3 separate regions of the Homo sapiens genome follow, and all the other regions are linked to region 1. The links come from fine-mapping of genetic effects on gene expression. A gene starts in region 1. Each other region holds a variant in brackets. All regions are shown on one strand. Distances are between the middles of the regions.

Region 1 (8,192 bases):
ACATAAAAGTGTTCTTTGCATCAAAGCATTAACTAAAGAATAAGCTAGTTTTAATTTTTCTGCAGATAAAGCACATTCTAAAAGACTTTCTAGAGCCTGTTTCTCATTCAAAATATGTGGTGTTTTTATGATATTATAACTCAAAGTTAATGACTTTTCTTCCCCAACTAAATTGTAGACACCCTCTTCTTATATAAATTCCACAAATCTTCCCTATGGGAGACACAAGAGTACACATTTTCTGTCTGTCTCTAGAATTTATGAGGTTTTACCCAAATGAATGTATTAAGTTTTTCTACATGATATCTCTCTCAATCTTCAGAACAGTCTAATATTGATCATTCAAAAGATCCAATTTGATCTCTGATCAATAAGATCTGATGGGCTAATATGGACTTGGTTGCCCTAATTTGGGTTCCCACAAACAGACTCTGAGACAAGGATTTAGGTGCAAGTAGTTTATTGGGGGGTATTTTCAGGAAGCATGGATAAGTAAAACCAGGAAGGGAGGAAAACTTAATAATGGGTGTTTTTATAAGAGGGTTACTACTGAGGGCAACAGAGCCACAGTCCCATTGGGATCTCTCCAGAGGCTGTGAACATGCCTCAGAATTGTCCCATAAAGAAGAAAATAACATGGGGTGTTTATGCACCAACTTCTGTCCCTTGTTGGCTGAGAGTTGCTCTCAAGGATGTGAATTTCCCAGCACACCTGGCCCACACTGCAGAAGCAGAGAATACCCCATGGTCAGAGAACCTGCTTGGGCATAGAAACACAGAAAACAGCTGACACCGTGTATCAGGGACCTCCAAGCTAAGTCAAAAGGATATGAATGAGGGACTGACTGTGTCAGTATGATCTATTTCAGGGCAAAGATATGTGATGTTAAATATGTGCTATGCATGGATTTTCCAATCACAACAGTGTGCAAAACCCAAAAGTGTGAAAACTAAAATTAACTTGATCTTGATTAAGAGTTATAATTTCCACCTGATATCAGATAAATTGACATGATCACTTTCTGGGTTTTCTCAGATAATTTTCATGACTTATTGGTCAGTTCAAATTTAATATTAACTCACATGCGGCTGGCCTTCTTAGGTCATCACGTTTACAACCTATTCATGGGGAAATCTATGGAAATGAATGGTCTCTACGATGAGAATTTTTCCAGATTGAACTCTTCGGGAAATTTAAGTACTTCCACGTAGACTTATTAGTAGATATTGACATGTCATTAGTCATTTGTAAAAAAATTTAATATATTGCAAATTTTTAAACATCAAAAAGCAAATAAAGCATTTTTATTCATTATTTGGCCAATCCAATGAAATCTCCCAAATAATAACAGATTCTGTTATTTCTTTTCTTGGTGGTTGATGGTTCTCAAGTCAACAGCTGAAGGAGAGGTGTCATGGTGTAAGGAAAACGGCACTCACTTAGACCCAGACATTCTTGAGTTCATGACCCACTTCTACCACATATTATTCTGTGGCTTTGGAAAAGTCACTTAACCTGTTGAAAATTTAGTTTTGCATGAGCATCACTCTCCATTACATGGGTAAAACTTGAGTCACTGAGAATGAACAGATTTCTGTACACTGTACAATTCTGACAGTTCATTCTGCTCATATCCTCCCATTTTTGCCAACTCTCTATCCCCAAGTTGTTCCAAGAGCGTTTTCACAACACATTGCCAAGCCTCTGTCCTTCCCTTTCTTGCCTATCCTCATTCTGTTATCTCCCTTTTTGGCTGCTTCATTAAGAGAGGAGCTGAGAATCTGGCATCTGGGCAAAACCATTACTTTGGAGAACACCACAAGGCCATTGCTAATTTTATCATCTTTGCCTTTAATGTACTAGTGGGAAGATTTATTTCTACCTTTAATAGTAAGATATCCTAAGTAGAAGGCATGTGGGTACTGCTGAGTCTTAGTTCTGTGAAGGTGGAGACTGTGTATGTTTTATTCCTTGTGAGAACCAAGGACTCAGCAAATACAGAGTACTTATTCAAACATTTTCTGAGGTTACTAGTTGATCCAAAATGTATTTAGTTGTTCAGAGATGCCAAATCTTGCTCAATATTTAGTCTGTGTTTTAGTATTGCTCCAAACCTTAAACCTAAACCTACCACTGACTTCAACAGAACTCTTCGCTTATTTTAACTGGAGATGGTATGAAGCAATGAGTCACCACTGACTATACATACCAGCAGTGCCTGATGCCAAATGGTTGGTGTGTTAATATAATTTTGTACACACAACAATGCACACATTCCAATACGGTAAGTAAAATAGAAAAGTTTCAAGAGTGAGAGCACGTAGTAGATATTTCTCAGAAATCTATGTGTGATTACCTAACCTTAGCAATTGCAATTAGGGGAAGGAAACGGAGAAAGCAGAATTCAGCTGTGTTTTAAGATTTATTTTATATATACCTTTTGTCCCTTGTAAAAAGAAAATTTGAAAAAGAAGAAGAAAAAGAAGAGGAGGGTGGGGGAGGAAAGGGAAAAGGACAAATGTGAAAAGAGGAAAGAGATGGAGAAGAAGAAAAGAAGAAAGAAAAGAGACATCTAATGTTAAAAAAGTTTTATTTCAAAATCTTTATTAAAAAAATGCTTTGCACTGAGCAATAGAGCTCAGGGAAAATAACGCCCTCTCTTCAACTTGTCTTTCTAAGTAACGTGAGGCAGTTGGGCCAACAATAGTGCTCCCCTCTACCTCTTCATCTCTCCATTTCCTAAATCTTAGAAGAAAATAAACCTACAAGAGTTTAGCCCCCAAATCTCAGTGAAACAGCCATGGAAGGGAGAGACCAGTGAAAATCTACTTCTACTTTGATGATAAAGGTTGAGAGAAATGCGATAAAATTTTTGAACTTGAGACACAAACTGGGCTGAACACACTTGGTATTAACTCCGTCTTTCACCTTGGCCTCAGGCCTTATCTTATTCCTCCAGCATTCCTTGGGATGGTAAAGGCAGGTACCCTCATATGCAAGTCATAGTTAGGAGAAGCGTTAGCATGTCCACCTCCAAAAGCTACATTAATCTGGAGTAGAACTGAACCCTGTCCAAGGGAGCTGAGTTACAGGACATGAGGCTCTGGAAACAGGGGCCATTTCTTTCTTTTTGTTTGTGTGTGTGTGTTTGATTGTTTGTTTTTGTCTACTGCCCCAATAAATTGGTTTCTTTTCTTAGAGTCTGATGCTAAAGAAGTCTCGACTCAGGAAAACCACAAGGGTGGACTTGGGAAGACTCAACAGGTTGTAATGACTCTCCAGCAAATCATGTCACCATGCCATTTGATGATGGTAGGAAGAAACAAAGCCTTGAAGATTCATGCATTGAGAGAATAAGAGTTAGTGAGTAAACCAGATGTGTTTCAGGACTGGGACCCTGCAGTCATCAACCACCTCACACCTGCGTCAGTAACAAACCCAAGCTACAGCATGATTTTTGTTCTACCTCAGCAGATATTTTATAGATGGAAAAACTGAGGCATAAAGTGGGTAAATACCTCCCCCAAGGTCACGAGATAAAGATAACGCAGTCATCAAATATTCTGTCTCCTCAACATCTGTCTTACTGGAATTCTTGATGGATTGGTACCCCCTTATTATAGTACTGATTTTAACATAGGTTGGTTTTGAATACTGGGTTTTTAAAAATCTTTTCAAATCATTTGTAAATTATGGAAATGTATACATCACATGAAACTTACCATTTTAATCATTTTTAAGTGCACAGTTTAGTTTAAGTACATTCACATTGTTGTGCACTGATCCATCACTATACCTTTTTCATCTGCTCCAGCTCAAACTCTGTACCCATTAAACAATAACTTCCCTTTGCCTCATCCCTCCAGGCCCTGGCAACCACCTCTGAATGCTATTTTATAGCAAAAAGAAATATTAACTTTTGAGCTTGGTTTACAACCAAAAACCACAATTACATGCAGGAGAGAGGGGGTGGGAAAAAGAGGTTAACTCAGAACTCAGTTACTTAGAAGACTCTGTGAGTGTGCTGTGTGTGTGTGTCTTTAAAAGACTCTCCACCTCCCAGCCCGCCTCCTCACACTTTGCCACTGGGTTGTTCAGTCCCCAGGTTCCCTCAGTCCCCAGAAGGAGCCAGCATGGACAATCTCCTTTACAGTTTCGGAAGCAGGTTTGTTGCCATGGAGTTCACATTTTGACGGGAGTTGAGAAGTATAAAGGTAACCATTTGTTTTAGTTTCAACGATCTGACAAAAAGATAGGCTGTTGCTCTTCTTCTGGAAAAGCCTGATTGGTAAGATTCCTTTAAGGGCTCAGCCCCAAAGAGCTTTATCCCATCCCCTCGCAGACTGAAAACTAAAGCCTGCAGAGACCTCTGAAGGAAAACCTGTCCCGGGCTCTGTCACTTCACACCCATGGCTAACCCTGGAGGTGGTGCTGTTTGCAACGGGAAACTTCACAATCACAAGAAACAGAGCAATGGCTCACAAAGCAGAAACTGCACAAAGAATGGAATAGTGAAGGAAGCCCAGGTAAGAGGCACTCTCCCCTACTCTTCTCTGAATTACCTGAACGTTTCAATATTTCTCTGTGAAGATATTTGAGGCTGTCCTAACTTAGAGTTCATCTTATGAAGGGTTTTTACATGTTTTGACTGTTGACTCTGTTAATAGAAAGTGCTTGGCTACCAAAAAGTTTAGGTGTGGATTAAGGAGAAAATGTCTTCTGTATGCAAAAGAGGATACACACAGACTCACACAGCTTCAGGCTCCCTAAAATACAAATGTACCTACTAGACTTTTGTCTCAAGCATTTTGCGGGGAGGGAAGAATTAAGAAAGTTCCAACTCTTTGCATATATTTTTGTCCAAGAGACCTGCTACAACCGTCATGCTTCAGAAGAAAAAGAGGAAGTGAAAGTACATTTTGCTGACATTATGTGGTGGAGATGGCATTCTTCCCAGGTCCATGAGAAATGCATCACTGTTTGAAAGGCGAGTTATTATTGGTGTGTAGTGGAGCATTGTTTTAGCTCACTACTTGATTTGAGGCCACAGTATTTCTTTGAAATGTGACGTCACAGACATTCTTTTCCAAAACACTTCAGAAAGCAGGGCTGATTGTGACACACTGCTCTCAGAAAACAGAACAGCATCTTTAAAACAAACTTGTATTTTCCAACTTGACACTTTTTTTTTTTTTCACTCTTATTGCACCGGGATGTTTGCAGAGTGTCCTAGGCAGGAGGAACTCGAGGAAAGTTGTCAGCTTGTTTTAAGAGAGAGCCTGGGTCTGTGAGGTCCTTATGTAAGGCAGTTCCCCACTCCCCACAGGACATCCCGTGTCACTCTGCTCTGAGCAGCAGAAGTGAGCTCATCTGCCTGAGGAGCAAGCCCAAGTAGTCAAACAGGTAGCCTCCTGTTTGGAAAGAGAAGTGGCACAGGGAGCCCCATGCAATCTTCCATCATTTGATCATCCAGAGAGCAAGTATCCACCCACAGGAAAGGCAGATTGTTCTAAGATCACAGGACAGGTGGGTCTGGCTGGGGCCAGTCCTCCTCTCAGTGAATTACATTCGTGTGTGCAATTGGAAGAGGCTAAAGGAGCTCTAGAGCCTGAGTTGTGTGTAAACAGGCTGTGGTCCCCAAAAGCATTCCCCTCTTAACAAAAGGCACTGTCCAACGCTGGGAGGTGTCTATCAGAAACCTCAGAACTGGCCTGTCCCACCTGAGGATCTGAAACCTGGAGCAATGTGAAGAGAAGGTGCTCAACTCCTGTCAGTTGTATGAAGGAAATTGCAGTAATATCCACCACTTATGCATCACTAAATATCAATTCAGGCCACTACTCAAGACGATCCTTGCCTCTGGAATGCCTGTAACTCACAAGCTATTCATCTACTTACCCTTGTGATTATTCTGACCCTGAGGGATCTCATCTGGGAAGAGATTCCTTCTTAACTTTTCTCCCTTTTATTTATTTTATCTTGGTTTTATAATCACATTCGAGGTATGAGATTAGAAACTTAGACAGTTATAACCACTCCTAAGTAAGGATAAAACCCAGGATTCTAAAGGTTCATTATGAAGTGCAGCTGCAAGACTGTAAATATCCTTGGACACTGAGGCTTCCCTAAGAACGGTCGAAAACATCAGGGCTGCTGTTGCCTTCCTGAAGGGCCATCCAGAGCCTCTTGTCTCAGACATATTTAGGTGTCACTAAGCTACAATTGGCTTTCATTGAGAGCCTCAATTATGGCTTAAAAAATATTTTTCAGAAAAACAAACGAACAAAAAAAACCCGGCTGAGATCATAGTGTAATAGGGCAAACGAGGGCTTATTGTCCCCTCCATGATGGGAACGAAGTTGTCTTTACTCTCAAGTTCCTTTGCCACCAGTTTTGATCCTTGGGACCCTTTAACAAACTAGGCCTAGACCAAAAGCCTTGCCTGTGGATAGAAGCAGTCTGCAAAGGCTTACAGAATCCTAGGCTGCTGGTCTCCCAAACACGTTCTGCCTGGCCTAACGTCTTCTGCCGCAGCATCTAAGATCCTACCAGCCCCTCCAATGATCCTCCCACCCTTTCTCTTCCCACTTATTTGCAACCACACAGCAACACAGTTATCTCTTTTATACATTAGGGGACCCTACAAGATTCTGTTGACAAAGGGTTCCCTGGCATAACAAACATATGAAAATTACTATTAGGCGGTGCTCATGAGTCCTCCTTCCCCCTGGTCCAGCGTAGGCTGCCATCCCTGCTCCAGCCTGCAGCAGGCTTGCTGCCCCAGTCTCAAGGCTGGCAAGGACCAGAGCCTTTCCATTCTTAGAAACCTTCTAGAGTTCCTTTCTGGAGCTTTTATGGAGCCTGACTATTTTTCCTGTTTTTTTTTTTTCTTTAAACCTCATATGTCCTGAGAATGCACAAAAACTGGTTTTCATCACTGACTAAGTCCATTTATTTGTTTATTCCCAACATGGCCTCCTACCTTTTACTTGTAACAGGACACTATCATACTAGAGGATTTGTTCTCCCTCTTCATGAGCATATCCACACTACAGACAGATGGGTGCTTAAAGTCTTAATCTATAAACTTGATATTTCTTATAATTTTTATTGAATTAAAATTCTTCCTAATGAATAGGAATTTCCTATTCCTTACTTAATTCTATATAATTACTTTGCAACTATTATCCACATAATTGCTTTTTAATTCCCAGCAATTATTTTTGACCTGACCATAAACTTTTATTTGGAAAACCAAAACCTAGGAAGGTAGACCTTGTGTCTCCATTGCATTTTCCCAGAAGTAGTTTCTTAAGAGGATAGAGTCTGCATTTTCTTCTCTTAAACGAAACCTGCAGGATGAAAAAAAAATTGTAAAGTTTTCCTAATCATCCCTTTCCTGGAAAACAAAAATGTTTGGGGATTAGAGTTACTCTAATTCAAGGTTTATTGAGTTCTTGACCTGAATGTTGTAATATTACCAGGTATAGGTTATGAGCCCTAACAGGTGGTTGCTTTTTTTTCACCAATACTTATTAAGCATCTGTTATTCTTAGGACCTATAAAGATAAATAAGAAGTTTACAATTTATCTGTTAGGAGAAAGCTTATATCAACATTAAAATAATCACATCAAAGTTAAATGCTAGTGCAAGGACAAGAGCTGCCATAAAGCAGACATAACTTGAGTACAAATGAGTGGTATAGATACTAGTACTAGAAGTTGGAGAAGAGCAAAAATAATAATAAATATCAATATTCTGCTATGTATCAGGAAGGGCTAAGCACTTCAGGCAGGCATCTCCTGTACCTTCAAAACAGCCCCATGAAGTGGTAGTATACTGTCCATTATACAGATGGGGAAAGATAAATCACTAAGGAACTTCTGAAGAATCACAATCAGCATGGCCAGGATTTGAGCCCAAATCCAAGTTGCTCCAAAGCCAGTTCCTTTTTCAGTATGTTCTAGGAAATCACAAGTTGGGGTGGTCAGTGACAGCTTCTCAGAGCAGAGAAGACTCAAATTGAACCTTGAGACATTATAATTGCAGAAAAAATAGGGAGCTTATTCCTGAGGGGCAAATGAGGAAAAGACAGGAAAGGAACTCCAGAGATGAATGTAGGAGTTGCTAGTAAAGGGCATAAGAAAGGTCATGAAGCATTCCAGGAAGCTGTGAGGCACAATAGGTCAT
Region 2 (8,192 bases), 66 kb before region 1:
TATTTTCTGAGGTCTGCTCCTGAGACTTAAAGCACTCCAACATTATAACAGAAGACTATGGGAGTTATGCCAACAACCATGGATGAAAACATGTTTTATATATAATATATATATTATATATAATTATATATTATGTATTATTATATATAATTATATATTATATATATTTTATATATACTCGCAAGAGGTTAATTCAGAAAATTGCTACTGTGGTTGCTACTTTTTGTCCTTTAACAACCAATTTAAAGTAAAATTTTGACTGAAATAGCAATTGATTTTTGAGAAATGTCAGCAATCGCAATGATAATAATTTTTTAGCCATTATCCCAAAGGAAACGAGTGATGTTTTCAAAATGTACTTCAATCCTTCAGCAATAATCAGATAAATAAATTTCCTGTAAAATTATAATTAAAAGTAAATGATACTTTTAATTTTTATGGATAAATAATATTTGTACATATTTATGAGATTCATGTGATATTTTGTTACATGCATACAATATATAATGGTCAAGACAGGGTATTTAGGGCAACTGCTACCTTGAGTATGTGTCATGTTCTGTGTTTATCATTTGAAATCTTCTTGCTATTTTGAAAGACAATACACTGTTGTTAACTATAATCACTCTACTATGATATTGAACAGTATAATTTATTCCTTTATCTAACTGTATGTTTGTACCCATTAACTAACCTCTGTCCATCTCCCGCACCCTTGCCATACACACTCTTTTCATCTTCTTGTATCTATTATTCTCTTCTCTACCTCCAGGAGATTAACATTTTTAGCTCCCACACATATGTGATGACTTGTAATATTTGTCTTTCTGTGCCTGGCTTTTTTCACTTATGTTAATGAACTCCAGTTCCATTCATGCTGCTGCAAATGACACGATTTCCTTATTTTTATTGCTGGATATTATTCCATTGTGTGTATACGCTGCATTTTTATCCATTGGTTTATTGACGAACACTTAGGTTGATTCCATATCTTTGCTATTGTTAGTAGTGCTACGATAAACATGGGAGTGCAGATATCTTTTTGAAATATTGATTTTGTTTTCTTTATATAAATACCCAGTAGTGGTATTTTTGAATCATATGGTAGTTCTATTTTTTGATTTTACTAATTTATATTCCCACCGGTAGTGTGTAAAAGTTCCCTTTTCTCCACATCCTCACCAGCATCTGTTATTTTTTGTCTTTTTAATAATAGTCATTCTAACTTAGGTAAGAGGATATCTAAATTATCTTTCAATGAAAGGAATGAGGGATACATTAATATTAGGCATTGATCTTCTTTTGACAGAAAAACATCAAAATGTTGTACAAATTTGTAAGGATTTGATAATAAATTTTGGCAGATGTCCAATATCAAGATCACCAACCACTTCATTAATAATTGTTGTTAAGTCATGGAACTTGTCTGCAGAAATTGTATTCTTCCAAGCTTCTAACTGAGGATTTTGCCCTTCAACCTTATCTGCTGTGAAAAGACATGTTTTTTTTTGCAAAGCAATATTAAGATAATTGAAATATCCAAAATACTAGACAAATGAGAAAGATTCGTTGTCCAATTTCATCTTAAAGTCAATATCAAATTGGTTGCTTACCTTGGAAACACTGAGATTGTTCTATAGTTCAACAGTTCTCCACCAAACTTTTACCCTCAATAAAGATGTACTTCCACATACATTAACAGTTGTTTTTAGTCAGCTTTCACATTATTGCCTATAAAAAAATTAAAGTTATTACCCTTATGGAATGATTACATTTTACAATTTCTCTAAGCATAATGTTTAGTTCAACAAGATTTTTTGCTTTTCTATATATAACAAAAATTTCTCAATGAAGCAAACATTACATTGATTTATAATCTATCGCAAGCTTCTTAATCTGACTAATTATTTCAGAACATGCCCCTACTGTGCTCAACAATTACATAGTTCCTGCCATTTGTGACTCATCATGTGAATTTGACCTGTTCTGTAACTCTTTCAATAAAGCAAGTCCACTTGCTTTGGCACAGTCAAATTGCACTAAAAGTGTTGAAACACTTACTCTCAACAACTGTCTTAATCCTCTCCCAGGACAGTAGTTGAATATTCACCATGCAGCAATGGTCCACAGACCACCACTTGAATTCCACTGAATAGGCATTGTTTTCTCCCCATCAACTGACAGGGAATTCCTAAAAGTGATGTTTAGCTTATTTTCTGTTTGCAAAGTCATACTATGGCACACTACATTTAGATTCATGCAACAAATATTTATTAGAATTAGAAATATTTAATAGAATTAAACAATGAGGCTATATCATTAGATACATGTTAAGTAGTGATCTTCCATGTCCAAAAAGTCTTTTCACACACTTGTCTTTCTTTGGGTTCAAATCAAGATAAAAAGTTTGTGTGTGTGTGTATGTGTGCTTTGTTTGTTTGGAGACAGAGTCTCGCACTGTTGCCCAGGCTGGAGTGCAGTGGTGCAATCTTGGCTCACTGCAAACTCCACTTCCCAGGTTCAAGTGATTCTTGTTGCCTCAGCCTCCCAAGTAGCGGGGATTGCAGAAGCCTGTAATCCACCACGCCTGGCTAATGTTTTGTGTTTTTTTTTGTTTTTTTTTTTTTTTTTTTGTATTTTTAGTAGAGATGGGGTTTCATTATGTTGGCCAGGCTGGTCTCAAACTGCTGACCTCATGATCCGCCCACTTCGGCCTACCAAAGTGCTGGGATTACAGGTGTGAGACACCGCGCCCGGCCGTGTGTGTGTTTTAAAATATTATTTTGAGTATGTCTTTTCTTGGTGGGGAAACTCAGCAGCAGAGGGCTGAGTTCAATAAAGGCTCCAATCAAAACATGATATACTCATTGATTCCCTCAAAGTTTACTCCCTTTGTGATTTATTTATTCCAATTTCTCACATTTTGTTTCTGCCTTTTTAGTTTAGCTCTTCCTCTAGACCACTCCAAGAGCATAGGCCTTGCTGGCATACTACTGTCTTTTTTCTTAAAAAATATATAGAGGGATCCTGTTAGATTAGTGTTCAGCAACTACTGCAGGCACGACATATCTGGCCCTGTACATTTTATGAAAATGAACTTACTGGAACACTGCTGTGCCTACTCATTTGTGTACTGTCTACGAAAGCTTTCATGCTACAACTTCCAAGTCCAGTGGTTGACACAGGAACCATATGACCTGCAAAACCAAGTATATTTACTATCTGACCCTTTACAGAAAGTCATGGAACCCAGAACTGGATGATCCATGGCAACTTCCATATTCTAGTTTTTCAAAATCCTTTTCTACTGCCATTCTTACTAAGGAGAATTTCAGCTGATAGCGGCAAACTAACAAGTAAATGTTTACCATGACTGAAGAGAGCTTCCTAAGGCAACCTTCCACCCCAGAAGCCTCATTTGTGGTTATGGGGCATGACCATAGTGCTGGCAGACCCCAGTCACTCAATAGATACAACATTCATTTATTCATGATTTTCTTTAAAAAATACGTTACACTAAAGGAACATGATTAAAAAAAAAAAAACACTACAGACTAATATCCCTGATTAACATAGATGCAAAAATCCTTAACAAAATACTAGCTAACCCATACAACAACATATCAAAAAGATAATCTACCATGATTAACTGGGTTTCATACCAGGGATGCAGGGATGGTTCAACACACACAGGCCAATAAATGAGATACACCACATAAACAGAATTAAAAACAAAAATCACATTATTATCTCAATAGACACAGATGTATTTGACAAAATACAGCATCCCTTTATGATTAAAACCCTCAGCAAAATCAGCATAGAAGGGGAATACTTTAATGGAATAAAAGGCATGTATAACAAACCCTCAATCAACATAATATTGAATGGGGAAAAGTTGAAAGCATTCCCCCTGAGAACTGGAGCAAGACAAGGAGGCCCATTCTCACCACTTCTATTCAGCGTAGTACTGGAAGTTCTAGCCAGAGCACTCAGACAAGAGAAGGAAATAAAGGACATCTAAATGGGTAAAGAGGAAGTCAAACTCTCACTGTTTGCTGATTATATGATCATATACCTAGAAAACCCTAAAGGCTCCCCCCAAACTTCCTAGAACTGATGAATGAATTTAGCAAAGTTTCAGGATACAAAATTAATGTACACAAATCCGTAGCTCTGCTATACACCATCAGCAACAAAGCTGAGAATCTAATCAAGAACTAAACCTCTTTTACAATAGCTGTAAAAAAAATAAATCAATAAAAC[C/A]TTTAGGAACATACCCAACCAAGAAGGTGAAAGTATCCACAGAAAAAAACTACAAAACACTGCTGAAAGAAATCATAGACGACAAAAACAAATGGAAAAACATCCCATGCTTATGTATGGGCAGAATCAATATTGAGAAAATGACCATACTGGCAATGCAATCTACAAACTCAGTGCAATTCCCATCAAAATACCACCATCATTCCTCACAGAACTAGAAAAAACTATCCTAAATTTTATATGGAAACAATAAAGAGCTCACATAGCCAAAGCAAGATTAAGTAAAAAGAACAAATCTGGAGGCATCACATTACCTGATATCAAACTATACTATAAGGCCATAGTCACCAACATACCATGGTACTGATATAAAACTAGGCACATAGACCAATGGAACAGAATAGAGAACCCAGAATTAAACCCAAATACTTACAGCCAACTGATTTTAACAAGGCAAACAAAGACATAAAGTGGGGAAAGGACATCCTATTCAACAAATGATGCTGGGATAATTGGCAAGCCACACGTAGGAGAAAGAAACTGGATCATCAGCTCTTGCCTTATACAAAAATCAACTCAAGATGGATCAAGAACTTAAATCTAAGACCTGAAACTATAATAATTCTAGCAGACAATATCAAAAAAACTCTTCTAGACATTGGCTTAGTCAAGGATTTCATGACCAAGAACCAAAAACAAATGCAATATAAACAAAAATAAATAGCTGGAACTTAATTAAACTAAAGAGCTTTTGCACAGCCAAAGGTACAGTCAGCAGAGTGAACAGAAAACTGACAGAGTAGGAAAAATATTCACAATCAATACATCTGACAAAGGACTAATATCCAGAATCTAAAATGAACTCAAACAAATTGGCAAGAAAAAAACAAACAATCCCATCAAAAAGTGGGCTAAGGATAGGGATAGATAATTCTCAAAAGAAGATATTCAAATGGCCAACAAACATATGAAAAAAATGCTCAACATCACTAATGATCTCGGAAATGCAAATCAAACCCACAATGTGACACCACTTCACTCCTGCAAGAATGGCCACAATCAAAAAACAGTAGATGCTGGCGTGGATGCAATGAAAAGGGAACACTTCTATACTGCTGGTGGGAATAAAAACTAGTACAATCACTATGGAAAACAGTACGGAGATTTCTTAAGCAACTAAAATCGTAACTACCATTCGATCCAGCTATCCCACCACTGGGTATCTACCCAGAAGAAAATAAGTCATTATATGAAAAAGATACTTGCACATACATGTTTATAGCAGCACAATTCGCAACTGCAAAATTGTGGAACCAACCCAAATGCCCATCAATCAATGAGCAGATAAAGAAACTGTGGTGTATTTATATATGTATATGATGAAGTACTACTCAGCCATAAAAACGAATGAATTAATAGCATTTTCAGCAACCTGGAAGAGATTGGAGACTATTATTCTAAGTGAAGTAACTCAGGAATGGAAAACCAAACATCAGATATCCTCACTCATAAGTGGGAGCTAAGCTATGAGGATGCAAAGGCAGAAAAATAATGCAATGGACTTTGTGAACTCGGGAGAAAATGATGGGAAGGGGATGAAAGATAAAAGACCACAAATTGGGTTCCGTGTATACTGCTCAGGAGATGGGTGCATTAAAACCTCACAAATCACCATTAAAGAACTTGCTCATGTAATCCAATACCACCTGTTCCCCAACAACCTGTGGAAATAAAAAAAATTAATTAAAAATATATCCATTATTGTCATTTCATTTAGTTGAATACAGTTAATTCATACAACTTTGTATTTTAAGCAAGTTATGCAATCAGTGGTAACTTTTTAATAAGTTTATTTATAAACTTGCTTGTTTATAAGTCTAATATAGGAAATTTATAAAATTGAAACCATGAGAAATTTTATCCTCTTGCTGAACAAACAAAAATAGTTCGTGGCATTATGTGTATATTGTAAACTGATTTTTTAAAACCAGTTATATCAAAAACTCTTCTCATGTTGAACCCAAAGCCATTACTTCTTAGCTCATAACTATAGAAACAGAAGCTTACTATGTAAATATGCTTTTAACTGTCCACTAAAAGAAACATGACTTAATTACTTTTTCTTTAAGACAGGGTCTCACTCTGTCACCCAGGCTGGAGAATAACTTTCTGCTTCTTTCTTTTCATATTAAACAACTTAATTAGATATGATTTGCATACCATAAAATATATCCTCTGCAAGTGTACAATTCGAATTGTTTGGGTAAATTTATAGTTGTGCAAGCACCACCACAGTCCCGTTTTGGTACATTTTCATAACCCCCCAAATAGGTCCTTCACATCCATTTGCAGTCAATCCTGTCTTCCATCCCCAGCCTTAGTTAGACACACTGATCTGCTTTGTCTCTGTAAACCTGCCTTTTCTAGACATTGCATATAAATGCAATTATATAATACATAGGCTATTTTCCTCTGGCTGATTTCATTTAGCACCATATTTTTGAGGTTCATCCATATTTTAGCACATATGTTAGTAGTGTGCTTTTAATTATGGAACAGTATTCCATGGTATGGATATACCACATTTATTTCACCATTGATGGGTATTTGAATTGCTTCCAGTTAGACCTATTATGAATATCAATTCTAGAAACATTCACAGATGACTTTGTATCAACATGTTTTCATTTTTCTTAAACAGATTCCTGGGTTGCATGGCAGGTTTAACTTTTTAAGAAACTTCCAAACTTATTTCCAGTGCAGCTGCACCATTTTATACTAGTACCAGCAATGTGTGGGGATTCCAGTTTCTCTGCATCTTCACCAACGCTTGCTTCTGTCTGTCTTACTATAGCCATTTTAGTGGTACGCAGTAGTATATCACTGAGGTTTCAATCTGAATTGTCTAATGGCTCATAATATTATGATAATGTAGATCATTCATAGGCCCATAAGCCATTCTTATATCTTCCTTGGTGAAATATCTACCAAAATACTTTTGAACACTTTTGAATTGGTTTCTTATTGTTGAGTTTTAAGTGTTCTTTATATATTCTGGATTCAGGTCTATTATCCAATATACGATTTGCAAATGGTTTCTTCCTGTCTGTGGATTGTGTTTTTGTTTTCTTGAAAATAGTTTTTCTTCTTTCTCTCCTCTTTTCTCTCTCACTACGCATATATAGTTTCTATCAGCGTTGTCATACAGATTTCTAAAGTTCTGTTCACTTTTTAAAAATCAAAACTATGCAAATTTGTGCCCAAAGAAATTTCTTCTAATAGAAAAGCAACACACAAAACCCTAAACAAGCAGAAGGACCACAGAAGCTGGTGTTAGGACAGAAAACAAATTCACTGAGGGGAAAAAAAACAAAGCTGATCAGACAAACAAAAGTACCAGAGGACCTCATAATTAGGAAAATAAACAAAACACAGAAATGCTTAAATAAAATATTGGAGCTTAGTTGTACATTAACTTAGCAATCAGCCAAGGACAATTTGATACCTTAATATGTAAACACACAAGAGATCACAAATGTACACACTCTTACTGAGTCAAGGCTTCCAGCCCAAGACAGTAAATGTTTCATATGAATCCTGGTGAACCTGCATTTCTGTCAATTCCTTACAGGCAAAGACCCTAAAGAAAACAATGCAATATTAATAAGCAAGTATTAGAAAAGACTTATAGGATTTTGGCTTATGTAAAGTTTTTCAGAGATAATTCATAAAGCAAAGTTTTGCTTTGTATTGGATGCTATTAGGAAGTGGGGATAATTCCATGATTGGTTATCTTGATAAATCTTAAACAAAAAAAGCAATGGGATGGTGAGGCTAAAGCTGTGATTGTTAAACAAATGTCAGTTACTCATATTCTGACCAGGAGAGGAATATGTTTGGCCATTTTTTGCAGTTTTAGCAGTTTG
Region 3 (8,192 bases), 33 kb before region 1:
GTATACATACCACATTTTCTTTATCCAGTCTATCATTGAAGGGTATTTAAGTTGATTCAATATCTTGGCTATTGTGAATACTGCTGCAGTGAAATATGCATGCATGTGTCTTTATAATGGAACAATTTATATTCCTCTGGGTATATACCCAATAATGAGATTGCTTGGCCGAATAGTGGTTCTGGTTTTAGCCCTTTGAGGAATTGCCACACTGCTTTCCACAATGGTTGGACCAATTTACACTTCCACCAACAGTGTGTAAGCATTTCCTTTTCTCTGCAACCTCCTCAGCATCTGTTATTTTTTGACTTTTTAATAATAGCCATTTTGCCTAGTGTGAGATGGTATCTCACTGTGGTTTTTTTTCTTTACTTCAATAGGTTTTTGGGGGACAAGTAGTGTTTGGTTACATAACTAAGTTTCTTTAGTGGTGATTTCTGAGATTTTGGTGCATCCATTACCCGAGCAGTGTACACTGTATCCAATGTGTAGTCTTTTATCCCTCACCCCCTCCCACCTTGTCCCCCAAGTCCCCAAAGTCTGTTGTATCATTCTTACGTGTTTGCAACCTCATAGCTTAGCTTCCACTTATGATTGAGAATATCTGATGTTTGGTTTTCCATTCCTGAGTTACTGCACTTAAAATAATGGTTTCCAGTTTCATCCAGGTTGCTGTGAATGCCATTATTTTGTTCAATTTTATGTCTGAGTAGTATTCCATGGTATATAGATAGGTACAGATATAGACATATCACAATTTCTTTATCCAATCATTGATTGATGGGCATTTGGGCTGGTTTTACATTTTTGCAATTGGGAATTGTGCTGCTATAAACATGCATGAGCAAATATCTTTTTCATATAATGACTCATTTTCCTTTGTGTAGATACCCTGTAGTGGGATTGCTGGTTCAAATGGTAACTCTGCTTTTTAGTTCTTTAAGGAATATTTACACTGTTTTCCATAGTGTTTGTACTAGTTTACATTCCCATCAGCAGTGTAAAAGTGTTCCTTTTTCACCACATTCCCTCCAACATCTATTATTTTTTGATTTTTTTATTATGGCCATTCTTGCAGGAATAAGGTGATATCGCATTGTGGTTTTGATTTGCATTTCCCTGATCATTAGTGATATTGAGCATTTTTCATATGTTTGTTGGGCACTTGCATATCTTCTTCTGAGAATTATCTATTCATGTCCTTAGCCCACTTTTTGATGGGATTGTTTGTTTTATTCTTGCTTATTTGTTTGAGTCCCTTGTAGATTCTGGATATTAGTCCTTTGTGGGATGTATAGATTGGGAAGATCTTCTCACATTCTGTGGGTTGTCTGTTTACTCTGCTGATTGTTTCTTTTGTTGTGCAGAAGTTTTTTAGTTCAATTAAGTCCAACTATTTATCTTTGTTTTTGTTGCATTTGCTTTGGGGTTCTTGGTCATGAAGTCTTTGAATAAGCCAATGTCCAGAAGGGTGTTTCCAATGTTATCTTCTAGAATTTTTATGGTTTAAGGTCTTAGATTTAAGTCTTTCATCCATCTTGAGTTGATCTTTATATCCCATGAGAGATGAGGATCCAGTTTCATTCTTCTACATGTGGCTTGTCAAGTATCTCAGTACCATTCGTTGACTAGGGTGTCCTTCCCCTACTTCATGTTTATATTTGCTTTGTCAAAGATGAGTTGGTTGTAAGTATTTGCCTTTATTTCTGGGTTATCTATTATGTTTCATTGGTCTATGTGCCTATTATACCAGTACCATGCTGTTTTGGTGACTATGGTCTTACAGTATAGTTTGAAGTCAGGTAATGTGATGACTCCAGATTTGTTCTTTTTGCTTAGTCTTGCTTTGGCTATGCAGGCTCCTTTTTGGTGCCATGTGAATTTTAGAATTTTTTTTTCCTAGTTCTGTGAAGAATGATGGTGGTATTTTGATGGGAATTGCATTGAATTTATAGATTGCTACTGGCAATATGGTCATTTTCACAATATTGATTCTATTCATCCATGACCATGGGATATATTTCCATTTGTTTGTGTTATCTAAAATTTCTTTCAAAAGTATGTTGTAGTTTTCCTTGTAGAGGTCTTTCACCTCCTTGGTTAGGTATATTCCTAAGTATTTTTTTTCTGCAGCTATTGTAAAGGGGGTTGAGTTATTGATTTGATTCTCAGCTTGGTCGCTGTCAGTGTATAGAAGAGCTACTGATTTATGTACATTAATTTTGTATCATGAAGCCTGCTGAATTAATTTATCAGTTCTAGGGGCTTTTGGAAGGAGCCTTTAGGGTTTTCTAGGTATATGATCATATCATCAGCAAACAGTGACAGTTTGATTTCCTCTTTACTGGTTGGATGCCCTTTCTTTCTCTTGTCTGATTGCTCTTGCTAGGACTTCCAGTAATATGTTGAATTGAAGCGGTGAGAGTGGGCATCCTTGTCTTGTCCGAGTTCTCAGGGGGTATGCTTTCAACTTTTCCCCATTCAGTATTATGTTGGCTGTGAGTCTGTCATAGATGGCTTTTATTACATTAAGGTATGCCCCTTCTATGCCGATTTTGCTGAGGGTTTTAATCATAGAGCAATGCTGGATTTTCTCAAATGCTTTTGCTGTGTCTATTGAGATGATCTTGTGATTTTAGTTTTTAATTCTGTTTATGTGGTATATCACATTTATTGGCTGTGTATGTTGAACATCTCTGCATCCCGGGTATGAAACCCACTTGATCATGGTGGATTATCTTTTTGGATATGCTGTTGGAGTCGGTTAGCTATTATTTTGTTAAGGATTCTTGCATCTGTACTCAACAGGTATATTAGTCTGTAGTTTTCTTTTTTTGTTATGTTCTTTCAGTATAATGTATTTTTTGAAGGAAAACATGAATAAACCAATGTTGTATCTACTGAAGTCATTATTGGTGCTCTCTCTCACTTGCAACCTGCCTTCACCTAAGGTCATACGAAGCTTCTAGGGTTCCCTCCTCAGTTTCCTCCTTCTAGGGTTCCCTATCAGATTCAGATTCACCACTTTTTTTGTACCAAACTTATTTTAATGTTCCCTACAATGTTGAAATAAAATTCATAGATCACATGACCTATCTAGACACAAAATCTTTAAAACCATCAATATATTAAACTATAATACAAATAAAACATAAGACAAATGTCTAATAAAAATAAATGTATATAAATTTGCAAATAATCAAGTATGATTAAATTTGAAGATATAATGCAATGATATGAGGGTTGTATCTGTACATATAATGCCACAGCTACAAAGGCAGATGAGTCCAGGTGTGTAGTAGTGGTGGCTCAATTACCATAAGTATTGCTGCCTTAATGTTATTTTCTAAAATGGTAAAATAATCTGGATAACATTCCAAACAAAACAAGTAGAATTTCCCATGATTCACATAATGATTTATTTCTGAAAAATTTAAGGTATATGAAAATTATGCCAAAAAATGCTTTTTTTTCATTTGTTATACAGAATTAGATTCCAAACCAGAAAGATTATAAGCAAGCTTTTTATCCTCATGAATGCCTGGGGCCACTGAAAATCTGTGGGACACTGATCTGTGCATTGGAGGTGTTTACCATCTTCAGTGCACAGAGCTAAATGGCTCAATGCCAGGAGCACACCCTTCCTAATTAACCAAAATTGCCTTCAAAAGTTTCAAAACTTTCTGGGAGGCCATACTCGGCTTCCTGAAAACTTAAATTTTGAGCACACTTGAAGAGGCCCTTCTAGTCAACATTGGTCACAAGTGAGATGCTCCTGGACCAAAGCCATCCTGCTTCCTGGAGCCTGACACCGCTGAGATTTCAGGCCTTAGTTAGGAGCTGGGAGGCTTTACCAAGGTTGATAACCAACCCCAACCTAGCCTTCTCAGATGGACCTCATGACCATACCCCATGAAGCACTGGCTGCTTCCCAGAATGTAGCCACCCAGAGGATGTAGGTCCCTTTCCAGTAAAGAAAAAGTTTACCCTTCTCTCTTCCTTAAAGGCATCTTCCCTTCCCCATTATACTCACTCCAGCCACGGACATCACAATCTCTTCAAATTAAGCCAGCAGTTCTCAGAACGTGATCCAAGAAGTCTTGAGGTCCCTGAGACCCTCTCAGAGAGTCTGAGAGATCAAAAATATTGATATTATAATGTTAGGCACCATTTGCCTTTTTTATTCTTTCAGGAGTGTACAGTGGAGTTTTCCAGAGACTACATAATGTGATACCAGGATAGAATGAATGAACACAGAGCAGACCTGAGAATCCAGCTGTCTTCTTTAAGCTATTAAAGAGATTCATAAAACAAACACAAAGCCACTGATAGATAAAAACCTGTGTGAATATATCCCCTTGGGATCCTCAGTTACTTCTAACAGTGTCAAGGGGTCCTGAGGCCA[A/G]AAAGTTTGAGAACCGCTGGTTTAGACTTTCTCAAAAGACAGAAAAGTATTTACTTTCAACAGCTACTATTTCCACAGACCCACTAGCCCCTGAAGCTGGGAAACTAAGATTCAGAGCTGATTCCTTTCCTACAGTGATGCGAAGAGAGGGGCTGGCAGACAGAGGGAAAAAAACAAACAAACCAAAAATGGAAACAACAAAGCTCAGACTTTCACCTCAGTAGATATCCTCGGCTCACATACTTATCAGGCAATGAACATGACAGGCTGGGAGGAGGGTAGGGTGTGTATTTCATTTTCCACACCCAGATAATAGCCATTTAAAAATAAGTGGCCACCACTGGTAATAAACAGCACTCGCCATTCCCACTTACAACTCACTCGGCTTATTCATTCCTTCAGTTAAGAGCTATTGAGGGCCTGCTATGAGCAGGGAAGAAATGGAGTGTTATCCTCACCAACTAGCTTACAGCTAGGAAGAGACCTAAAGGCATAGAGAAAATGAACTCTAATAAAAGTTGAAGGTGAAACGGCCTAACACAAAGGCAAAAATTCAGTTCTATAGGGATTCTGAAGCTTGATTTTTCTGTTTGGAGCAGTGAGCATCATAGCAAGTTACAATTTGAGCCGAGACTCTGGAGAAATAGGCTGCAGAGATTAGACATAGTAGGGAAGGACTTGATGGTGAAGAATAGCATGAAAAAAGCAGAGAGGCAAGAACTGGGGAACAGGTTAGGAAACAGTCAGCTATAGCTAGTTTGGCTGGAATGCAGGGTGTGTGGAATTTACATATGGGAGATTGGGAAATAAAATTAGAGATGTACGTAAGGATCAGATCACAGAGAAGTTTCACTGTCAGGCTAAGGTTGTGACTAGGAAACCATAAGAAGACTTTGAGCTATTACCTTACAAGAGCTGTGCCTTAGAACAGTGAGCCTTGGTGTACAGTGTAGGATCAATTAAAGTAGGAGAAACTGGAAAAGTATAAAATAAAAGACAGGAAGAAGAACCAGGAAATAACATTTATCATGGGATGCATTATAACAGCAAACATTGGCAAGGGTATAGAACAACTATGACTTTTGTACACCGCTGCTTGGAGTATAAAGTTGAAAAGTCACTTCTCAGCATTTTGGCAATTTCCTGCAATGTTTAACTTGACCTTATGACCCAGCAATTTCACTAAGTGTTTGCCCAAAACACAAAAAAACCTAAGTCCACAGAGAAACTTGTACAATAATATGTCCAGCAACTGTGTTCAAAATATCTAAAAACTGGAAATAACCCAAATGTCCATCAAAAAATATTAAATAAATTATAGAATATTCATATAATAGAATATTTAACAATAAAAAGAATGAACTATGATACACCACAACATGGTTGAGTATCAAAAATGTGTTAAGTAAATAAAGAGTATGTGCTCTGTGATTTCACTTACCGTGTTTGAAATCTAAATTCAGAGAAAGTTAATCTTTTATAGAAATTATAGAAATCAAATAGTGGCTGCCTGGGGAGAGATGAGAAGGGAAGGGTGGGGAATGGACTGGAAGGAGCATGAGGGAACTCCCTGGAGGAATACAAATGCTTTGCATATTATTTGGGGTAGTAGTACACATATTATACAATTGTCTGAAACTCACAATCTGAACATGTGATACCTGTGCGTCTTATTTTGTAATAGTTCTGTCTTAGTTAGAAAAAATTCTAGGTCACTGAAAATGTAGCATTCACTCACCCTTCCTGAAAATAAAACTTACAACTAAAAACACTTATTTCTATTATCTGTGGAATCAATCAAAATTAATACAATGGCTGAAATCGTGGTTGGAAAAAAGCTTATTAGTGAGCAATAAAAAAAACTATAGGTGAAAATAAATGTGCTTAGATTTTTAAATCAATTTACTAATTTCTGTAAAAGACAATTAATGTGATAACATTAATACTTAAATTGTGGCCAAAAATTCTGAAAACAGTGGTGAATTTAAAGAAAAGGACATTATTTTAGTCTTGCTGCAGACAAAGCCAATATTACTCTCAAATACCATATTTTTATATTTAAAGTATTTATTGTAGACTCTAGTGAATGTCTTTTTGATTAAGCTCATGGTTCATAAAATTGGCTTTGAAAATAAAACTGATGTGTTTGCACTTATTTCTCACACTGCAAAGTAATATAGTGCTCACTGAAACGTGTCTTTCTATCTATTGAGTAGATAAAGCTCAGGTTTAAAAAAAGGTAGCATATAGCTTTATGCAATTAGCTTAGGAAGCAAAATTAAATTACAATTCATCATCTCTCACTCAGGTAAGCTCTATGTATATACTTAAGGTTACCTGTTTGGAAGTCAGGATTGTATGTTATGTTTAAAAACAAGATAGAGATCTGTGGAGTTTGTCATTCTAGTCACTTGCTTGGGAAGTAAACATGAGTTAAAAGTAGTTGGAAGTCCAAGAGGGAAAATATATCCTTGCACTGTGTGTAACTCATGTACCTCTCTCTAGAGGGAAAGCTAAGCTGCTACCTCTGGAGGGTGTTTTCCAGCGATAAGCAAATACGCAGTGATAAGATCTATGTAGAAATGGGATATTGTGTAGAAATGGGATATTGTGTAGAAAGTTGATTGAGTGGAGAGGGTCATGCAGTGTAATCTCCTGAAATACACTATAATTATTTGGATCTTTCCAGGTTCCCACTTTGGCCACTTAATTCTCTGAACCTCTACTACATGAAGAGACTAGAACTTGATTAGAAAAAAATGGAATGACTCTTAATGAGCAAGTGGATGAATAAATTGTGGTAAATCCCTACAAGTGACTATTAGAAAGCGAATGAGTAGAGTTAATTAATTCCATATTGACATTGTGCACTGTTTATGATACATTATGTAAGAAAAAAAAGCAAGATTCAGTATAATGTTCATTATAATAATATATTTTGGCAAAAACAAACCACAAGGACAAAAATTCCAATACAGATCTAAAAACAGTCCAACAAACAAATGTCATACTAGAAGAACAAATAATATTGTTTGGATTTAAGAGGAAAAATTTGACAGATCTGTTTATAATGCACACAGCAACTGCTATAAGGAAACAGCTCAGGAATGCATAGACTATGAAAGAAAAACCAGGAAAGATGAGTTAGCATGGATAGATGGATGCATGGATGGATGCATGGATGGATGCATGGATGGATGGATGGATGGATGGATGGATACATGGATGGATGCATGGATGGATGGATGGAAACATGAATGGATGGATGGATGGACGGACGGATACATGAATGAATGGATGGATGAATGGGTGGATGGATGGATGGATGGGTGGATGGATGGATGGATGGATGGATGGATGGATGGATGGATAGACGTAAATGAGGAAAAAATAAAGGGAAGAAGGAAAATTATTTTTCTTCAACAATCCAAAGACACTGTTCCTTTATTTTCACAGTATCTTATGCTTTTAATAATAATTCTATTGCTGAAATAACTTTTTTTCCTCTTCATCCTTAGTGTTCTCATATTTCATAATCAGGATCTAGATATGAGTCTTTTCTATTTAAAAAAACTTTTCTTTCAGCTCTGAAAAATATTTTTATATTGCTTCTTAGATAATTTAGAACCCTCAACTCCCCGTGTTCTTTCTTTCTGGCATAACTACTTGCTCGCTGTTGTACCTTCTTGATATATCCTTTATGTCTCTTATTATTTCTTTACAACTTTCTGTCTTGTTTTCTTGTTGTTCTACATTTTAAGAATTTCTTCACTTTTTGTCTCTTTTA

Evidence for each region. PIP is the estimated chance that this variant, and not a neighbour inherited with it, causes the effect.
Region 2: its variant is the best candidate, but not a certain one, in a credible set for the expression of SPTLC3 in blood mononuclear cells (TOPMed, PIP 0.52).
Region 3: its variant is the best candidate, but not a certain one, in a credible set for the expression of SPTLC3 in whole blood (TOPMed, PIP 0.66).

What each region holds. Positions count from the first base shown.
Region 1 is chr20:13,004,858-13,013,049 of GRCh38, forward strand. SPTLC3 (serine palmitoyltransferase long chain base subunit 3) reads left to right here and starts at 4,115. Exons shown (of 12, transcript NM_018327.4): 1 at 4,115-4,527. The coding sequence starts at 4,411.
Region 2 is chr20:12,939,206-12,947,397 of GRCh38, forward strand. It overlaps LINC01722 (long intergenic non-protein coding RNA 1722), which reads right to left. Exons shown (of 12, transcript NR_109868.1): 3 at 5,939-5,987; 4 at 1,614-1,731. It overlaps LOC105372535 (a long non-coding RNA gene), which reads left to right. Exons shown (of 5, transcript XR_937274.3): 5 at 1,310-1,699. Among named protein-coding and RNA genes, the nearest start is that of LINC01723, 7.0 kb to the right of the region's middle. The variant C/A (reference allele first, on the strand shown) is at 4,267.
Region 3 is chr20:12,972,258-12,980,449 of GRCh38, forward strand. No RefSeq gene overlaps it. Among named protein-coding and RNA genes, the nearest start is that of LINC01722, 24 kb to the left of the region's middle. The variant A/G (reference allele first, on the strand shown) is at 4,406.